Homo sapiens: one gene and its partner. The protein of the gene in region 1 purifies or fractionates together with the protein of each later gene. This does not show direct contact. Each region holds a gene or a part of one and is shown in the gene's direction. Other genes may lie near its edges.

Region 1 (4,147 bases):
CTTTGTGAGCTCAGCACATTCATTATATGAAAACTCTCTATATTTTATTCTGTCCACTCTTGAGCTAAATGTTTCCAGAGAGCTAGCAGAATTTGTTTTCAGCGTTAGATCCCTCTGCTAAACAAACGGGTGCTAATAGAATCACTTTGCTAAATAAATGGGAGCTAACAGGATTGAATATGAGTTCCATTTTTGTCCCAGAGTTCTAGTTTTCATATAAATATTTCTTCCCATTAAATTCTTCTCTGCAGAAGAACTTGGGGATGAAACCCGATACAGACAAGACAGCTTAAGTAAGACATAAATGAGTGTTGTCTCTAGTTTGAGTTTCCTATTTTTTTGAGACAGTCTCCTGCACTGTCCAATAGAATAGCCACCAAAAATATGGATATTTAAGTTTAAATTAGAAGTGAATAAAGTTGGCCGGGCGCGGTGTCTCACGCCTATAATCTCAGCACTTTGGGAGGCCAAGGCGGGCGGATCACCTGAGGTCGGGAGTTCGAGACCAGCCTGACCAACATGGAGAAACCTCGTCTCTACTAAAAATACAAAATTAGCCGGTGGCGCATGCCTGTAATCCCAGCTACTCGGGAGGCTGAGGCAGGAGAATCACTTGAACCCGGGAGACAGAGGTTGCGGTGAGCCGAGATCGCGCCATTGCACTCCAGCCTGGGCAACAAGAGAGAAACTCCGTCTCAAAACAAAACAACAACAACAACAAAAAAAAAACAGAAGTGAGTAAAATTGAAAATTCGGTTATTCAGTTCAAGTACTCAAAAGCCTCATGTGGCTAGTGGCTACCGTATTAAAGAGCGCAATGTGCAATATTTCCATCATCACCTACAGTTTTATTGGGCAGCGCTGCCCTGGTCTTTATTTTCCCTTGTTGGAACGCTCTTCCACGCTGCTCCCACACCATGTCCCCTATCACCATTATTATCCTCATTTCATCTGTAATTACTTGCATCTTTTAATAGGCTGGGAGTTCTAAGACAGAAGGGACTGTGTCTCACTTCTGTTGTTCCAGTGTTTAGCTTTGAAACCCAGGCACACAGTAGGTACTCAGTAAACAGAATGCGAAGGACCGTCCAGAGACACCAGTCCCAAACCCTTTTCCAGGCTGATCGGTCCCCCATAAGTCTCCAGCCTTTTTTATTTTAAAGCTTATTTTAAAGCATGTCCCTGAAGACGAGTGGGGAGAGCAGACCACCCGCTGATTCCAATTCCCTAGGCGGCCGCGGCGAGCTGCGGCGTCTCTGTGCCCCGGCCTGCCCCTATCCCGCCTGCGCCCCGCCCCCGCCCGGCTCGCGCCAAGGCCCGCTGCTGGCGCCGCCGCCATCCCGGCGCGTCACTGCGCAGGCGCGGCCCGCGAGCGTGGGGTATCTCGAGGTGCCGGGTTGCAGGCGCTCAGGAGCGCTAGGGTTTGAGGCCTGCTTTCTGCTCGCGCCAGCAGAGCACTACCTGAGGCAGCGAGGCGCAGCGAGCCTAGCCTCCCCGCGCCCTGGGCAGTGTGGCCATGGAGAATCAGGTGTTGACGCCGCATGTCTACTGGGCTCAGCGACACCGCGAGCTATATCTGCGCGTGGAGCTGAGTGACGTACAGGTAAAGGCCGGGTCGGGCGGCGGGAAGCGCGCGGGATCGCGGCTCCGGGTACCCGCCAGGACCCCTGCCCCCTTTGTCCGCGTGCGCGCCGGAGAGCCTGCAGTGCGCCAACAAGGTCGGCGACGCGGTGCGCTTACGGCGTGCTGGCGCTTTTCGAGGCTCATCTGCAGATCTCGGGCCGGGGGCACAACCCCCCGAGGGCTGCAGGAACCTTCGGGTCCCCAGAGAGCTCGGCCTGGGCCTCTCAGGCTACCCCGGGCCTCTTCTTTGTTCGCAGTCGGCGGCCTTCATGGAGCCCAGGCCCGGCCCTGGCTGCCTGGCCGTCGGGGTTCGAGTTGGCTGGGGCCCTTCGAGATGTGGGATGAGCTTGTTGGGTCAGGGGTGCGGTTGTGACAGCGGCTTGCTGGGCCGTAGCTGAATGCCTGCCGCTGGCCTGAGAGGTCCAGCCAGGCCCCTCGGACGTTACTGAGGCTGGGCGCTGCCGGAGGTGGGGGAGGGGGAGGGGTGGGGGGCCACACCCACCTCGCAACCGTTCAGTGATGGAAATCATTCTCATTACTTTTAATTTTAAAATTCACAAGAGCTGGAGGAAGTGATTTCCCCCTCTGTTCTGAAGGTTGTGAGCTCAGGTTTGCTGAGTTGCACAGAGAACTTAAAAAGTTCTTAAGTTACATTAAGCATTTCTGTTTGAGCTCCTTGGCCCTTAATGTAAGCAAGCTGAAGGCACGTAGTAGTGGAGACTCCAGGACCTGTGTATCCTCATGTCTCTGTCCAAACTAAAGATTCTGGGCTTTGAGAAACTGGAATTTTCATTCTGGAAGGTTCTTTCTTTCTTTCTTTCTTTTTTTTTCTTTTCTTTTTTTTGAGACGGTGTTTCGCTCTTGTCGCCCAGGCTGGAGTGCAATGGCGCGATCTCGGCTCACCGCAACCTCTGCCTCCCGGGTTCAAGGGATTCTCCTGCCTCAGCCTCCCGAGTAGCTGGGATTATAGACGCGTGCCACCATGCCCGGCTAATTTTTGTATTTTTAGTAGCGACAGGGTTTCACCATGTTGGCCAGGCTGGTCTCGAACTTCTGACCTCAGGTGATCCACCCGTCTCGGCCTCCCAAAGTGCTGGGATTACAGGCATGAGCCACCGCGCCCAGCCTCTGGAAGGTTCTTTCTACAGTCATTCTTATTGGAAACTTCTCCTTAACATCTATGGCACTTTGTCATCTCTTTCACTCCATTTAACTCTCTCTGCCTCTGAACAGGCATCTGCTTGGATCACCCGTGGATCCGGTAAAATGTAGGTGCTTTCTGAGTGTCGACTTGAATTTATTGAATTTAATATAATCTTTGCTTCTGGAATATAAACAGTTTTCCTGTTGAAAGATGAAGACAGTAGTGGCCAGAATGCCTTTAAATAGGCTATGACATTGCATGGTGTGTCGTTTAATGTGTTCATCCAGACTGAGGCTATACTTTTGGGTCAGAGTATGAGTAAATGTTCTGTGCTGTCTCCCTCTACTGCTCCACGGTGGTTTAATAGAATAGGAAAAAACAAACAAAATCTTTTGTAGATGGGGATCAAAGTCCCCGTCTAGAGAGGGTTCTTCCAGCAGTCAATAAAAAAGTACGGAACAGGCCAGGTGCTGTGGCTCACGCCTGTAATGCCAACACTTTGGGAGGCCGAGGCGGGAGGATCACCTGAGGTCAGGAGTTCGACACCAGCCTGACCAACATGGAGAAACCCCATCTCTACTAAAAATACAAAATTAGCCGGGCATGGTGGTGCATGCGTGTAATTCACTATGTTGGCTACTCGGGAGGCTGAGGCAGGAGAATTGCTTGAACCCGGGAGGCGGAGGTTGCGGTGAGCTGAGATGGTGCCATTGCACTCCAGCCTGGGCAACAAGAGTGAAACTCTGTCTCAAAAAAAAAAAAAAAAAAGTAACCATCTAAAAATTTTTGGGGAAAAATAAATCATTTTTCCCCCTTATTGAGTTTTTGTTTTCTCTGGGGTTTCACATCTGTAGTTTTGAGGCACCCATATTTCAACTACCATTAGTTTAAAAGCATGATGTTACCCTCATAAAAGAGTGTTTACATGTGTTAGCAATCCTCTAACACATGTAAGGTAGTACAGATTTACAAAGGTGAGTCAGACCCAGCTTTTCAAGGGCATGCTATCTAGAAGGAGGCGTATCATATACAAACAAAAAGTTTTGTGTAGGAGTATGTTTATTGGTAGAATTGGAGTTGGATGTTGAACCAGGTATCTGGTGTTAAAGGAATTTGTTACCTTTCTTTCATTTAGTTAGTGATGACTTCCAGAAATGAGAATTATTTTTGTCAAACTAAGACTGGGAGAATGTTCCAGAAAGAGAAAGGCATAGACTTTTAGACACTTGTAATCTCTGACTTAAGCCGTGTCAATGCCCAAAGGCCACCAATAACACACCCGTAGTTAAACAAGTTGGGTTTATTACTCATTGCATTGAGAGAGCATACTCCATGGGGAACCCTGGGGTGTTTCATTAGGAGGGTGTTAGAACTGATTAT
Region 2 (3,989 bases), 250 kb from region 1:
CCTGACCCACTCCAAGCTCTCCCTTCCTGGGGTCTGAGCTTCAGAAGCCACCTTAGAGTTCCTGGGTCCTATGAGAACCCCCATGGCTTTTGAAGCACTAGGGGCCTTGTGGTTCTAGGCCTCAGAGCAAACAGATTTGATGTGGGCTCCTGGGAGCAGCCCCCAACCTTTACCTGGCAAAAGAAGATGGGAAGCTCTGTGGTGTCTGGGGGACCAGTCTTCGCCCTACCTCCCGAAGTCATAGATGCAATCCAATGGCATGGGACCACCTCTCCTCTGAGTCCAGGGCCCAGCACAGCCTGGATGCAGAAGGAGAAGTTTCTTCCTCAGAAGATCCTGCAGGGTAGGAGTGTGTGCGGTGTGTTGGTTTAAGCACAATGGTCTGTGTTTAGATTTGCATGTGACCATGAGGTCACACTTTGGGGTTTTCTCTAATGAAGGTTCTGAGTAGGGAGAGGGGATGGGAGTCTAGTCCTTACCCTCCAGCAGAGTTAAGTCAATGCCCCTCTGCTCTCCCCCAAGCTCCCTGTCAGAGAGGTCTCCCAAGGAGGATCTTGGGGCATTTGAGGCCAGAGACTTAAGCAATTCAGAGAATTCTGGAGGCTGAAAAGCAGAGGAAAAGTCTTTTGGTTTTCCAAAGATCTCGGTGTGAATCCTAGATTTACCCATCTGGCTGTGGGATCTTGGGCAAGCATTGCAGCACTCTAAGCCTCAGTTTCCCTGGGTGTTAAATGGCTCCTTCTGTGCAGTTTTGGAGGGAAAAGATTCAAGAGAGACAATAGGTAGCATTAATACCCCAAGGAAGAGAGGTAGGCTCAGTCCGCAGAGCTGGGACAAAGACAAGTACAGGGGCGGGTCGAGAGGGTGCCCACATCAATTTCTACCAGGGCTGCTGCTGCTGTGAGGATGGCTGGCAGGGGCGTGGGCGACGTCGCCCGGCACACACTGGCGGCGGCAACTCTCGTAGCTGCGGGTGATCGGGGTCTGGGAGGGGCGGGCACAACCCGTACGGTGGAGCTGGCTGGGGCGCGAAGGGGCGGGCCCTCGGCTGGGCCGGGCGGAGCGCGGCGGCGGGAGGGGAGGTAGGCCGGGCAAGGCAAGCGGACGTGAGCTGCAGGCGGAAGACAGGTGGCGCCGCGGGCAGCTTGGCGAGAGGCGGGACTTCGGCGGCGCGGCGGGAGGCGGGGCAGGAAGGCGCGCGCGGCGCAGCAGCCTCGCCCGTCGCGGAGAGTGGGCTCTGCCCGCCGTCCCCCGGGGGCTGCTTCCCGCCCCAGGCCTCCGCGGAGGACACGTGTCAGCACGTTCCCGCGGTTGTCATTCCATTGTCATAGCCCTTCCCCTAGGCCGGGAACCCCTCCCCCCCACCAGCCCCAGTTCCTTTATCCCTGGGCCCAACCTCCCCGCCGACCCGCGGTCCAGGCCTCGGTCTCTCTCTTCGGCGGCGAGCCGCGGCCCAGACCCCGGCAGAGGACACTTGTCGGCACGTTCTCACCCCTGTCATCTCAGCCCCCTGCCTAGCTCCACCCCAGGCTTGGGAACCCGGCCCCTGACGGCCCATTGTCCGCGGGCCCAGCCCCCGCGCTGAACGCACGCTCGCCCTTGCCCCTAACCAGCGCGTCTACCCCGGCAACGCGCAGTGACCTGGGATGCAGCCCTCAGGCTGGGCGGCCGCCAGGGAGGCGGCGGGCCGCGACATGCTGGCCGCCGACCTCCGGTGCAGCCTCTTCGCCTCGGCCCTGCAGAGCTACAAGCGCGACTCGGTGCTGCGGCCCTTCCCCGCGTCCTACGCCCGCGGCGACTGTAAGGACTTTGAAGCCCTGGTGAGTGTGCTTTGTCCTGGCGCTGCCCACTGCGTCCTGGACCAAGTGCCCTGTGGAACCACAGGTAGAGGCAGTTCCATCCGCATTAGTAAACATGACAGCCGCCAGACTTTCCATTCCCAGCTTGGTCTTGCCTTGCCTTGGGGAAGGTTTCCATGAGCTAAGAACACTGCTAACACCCTCATGTCAACGCTCACTCCCAAGGCACTTGGTGGCTGCTTCTCTCCTGTCAATGACAAATGACTCCGAGGACTGAAGTGAGGAATAGTTGCATAGTCCTCCACAGATTTTCTAGCCTGGCCAGGAATAGGGTTGATGTGAATCAGCTGTTTTGCTTAGCTAGAAAGTTATCCATCCTTTTGCAAATAATTAGACACCAAAAAGTCACCAAAGCCGCCCAGACATTGGTCTTCAGATGAGGTGATCTATGGGCAGTACTTTTATAAACTGTAACATCCAGTACATATGTAAGCTGTTATTTCTCTGATTCACCAGGCACTTTTTTTGCAGAGTTCACCTCTGGGTCAGCATTCAAGATATCAGTTATCCTTATAATCCAAATGTTTGGAATTGCCTAGAAAAATATAACTTACCAAAATCGATTCAATAAAAAGCAGAAAATTGAAATCGCCAATAGCTGATATTCATTAAAGACACTGAACTCCATGTATCTTTGGGACCTGTCAAGTGTGGCAGTCTCCCTTCCTTGCCATGGAAGAGCATATTCTTGTTTACCAGCAAAGCTGTCACCATTTAATTGGTATCAGATTCTGACTTGCACAAGTAACATTCTTCACTGTTAAAAACTTGGAGGGGCCAGGCTCGGTGGCTCATGCTTGTAATCCCAGCACTTTGGGAGGCCAAGGCGGGCAGATTACCTGAGGTTGGGAGTTCAAGACCAACCTGACCAACATGGAGAAATCCCGTCTCTATTAAAAATACAAAAAGTTAGCCGGGCGTGGTGGCGCATGCCTGTAATCCCAGCTACTCTGGAAGCTGAGACAGGAGAATCGCTTGAACCCGGGAGGCGGACGTTGTGGTGAGCCGAGATTGCGCCATTGCAGTCCAGCCTGGGCAACAAGAATGAAACTCCATTAAAAAAAAAAAAAAAACCTGGAGGGTGCCAGGTTATTGGGCGAACTTTTCTAGACTATTGTAGAAAAAGAAGAAAAAGGCTGAGTGGCTCATGCCTGTAATCCCAAGGACTTTGGGAAGGCAAGGCAAGAGGATCGTTTGAGACCAGCCTAGGCAAAAAAGATTTCTTTAAATTAGCTGAGTGTGGTGATGCACGCCTGTAGTCCCAGCTACTTGGGAGGCTGAGGCGGGAGGATGGCTTGAGTCCAAGAGGTCGAGGCTGCAATGAGCTGTAATCACACCACTGCCCTCCAGCCTGGGCAACACAGCAAGTCTCTCTCTCAAAAAAAAAAAAAAAAAAAAAAAAGACGTTGGATTAGTAGTCAAGGATTTTCCCTCAAAGAAAACTCTGGACGTAGCTGGTGTCATTGGTGAGTTGTAGCAATCACTGAGGGAATAAGTAATTCCCAGTTTTACACAGAGTATTAAAAAAGAGGCTAGCATAACCTTGACCCTAAATCTGATAAGGGTGATACAAAAAAAGAAAATTATAGGCCGAGTGCGGTGGCTCACACCTGTAATCCCAGCACTTTGGGAGGCTGAGGCGGGTGGATCACGAGGTCAGGAGTTCAAGACCAGCCTGGACAATATGGTAAAACCCTGTCTCACCATTATGGTGGTGCATGCTGGTAATCCCAGCTACTCAGGAGGCTGAGGCAGGAGAATTGCTTGAACTGGGACCTGGGAGGCAGAGGTAGCAGTGAGCCGAGATCGCCCCACTGCACTCCAGCCTGGGCAACAGAGCAAGACTGTCTCAAAAAAAAAAAAAAAAAAAAAAAAAGAGGAAAGAAAATTATAGGCCAATGTCATGAGTATGAATGCAAAAATTATCTTCAAGGTATTAGGATCTTAAAGCTAGCAATGTATAAAAAAGGGTAATTCCTTATGACCAGGTTGGGTTCATCCCAGGAATGCAAAATTAGTTCAATATTAGGCAATCAGTTAATGGCACGAACCACATTGATAGATTAAAGGAGGTATTTAGAATCAACACGTGTTTAGCGTTATCTCTGATGAAATCATCAGTGTTTGGTT

The links.
Region 2: the proteins of HACD3 (region 1) and PARP16 purify together in Homo sapiens (affinity purification with mass spectrometry; one large-scale study listed by BioGRID and IntAct). This does not show direct contact.

The regions. Positions count from the first base shown.
Region 1 is NC_000015.10:65,529,116-65,533,262, forward strand, and holds the start of HACD3 (very-long-chain (3R)-3-hydroxyacyl-CoA dehydratase 3), read left to right. Parts: upstream 1-1,347; 5' UTR 1,348-1,516; coding exon 1,517-1,603; intron 1,604-1,678; exon of another isoform or gene 1,679-1,718; intron 1,719-4,147. UniProt on the Homo sapiens protein: Catalyzes the third of the four reactions of the long-chain fatty acids elongation cycle. This endoplasmic reticulum-bound enzymatic process, allows the addition of two carbons to the chain of long- and very long-chain fatty acids/VLCFAs per cycle.
Region 2 is NC_000015.10:65,284,084-65,288,072, reverse strand, and holds the start of PARP16 (protein mono-ADP-ribosyltransferase PARP16), read left to right. Parts: upstream 1-1,189; 5' UTR 1,190-1,646; coding exon 1,647-1,820; intron 1,821-2,481; exon of another isoform or gene 2,482-2,612; intron 2,613-3,989. UniProt on the Homo sapiens protein: Intracellular mono-ADP-ribosyltransferase that plays a role in different processes, such as protein translation and unfolded protein response (UPR), through the mono-ADP-ribosylation of proteins involved in those processes.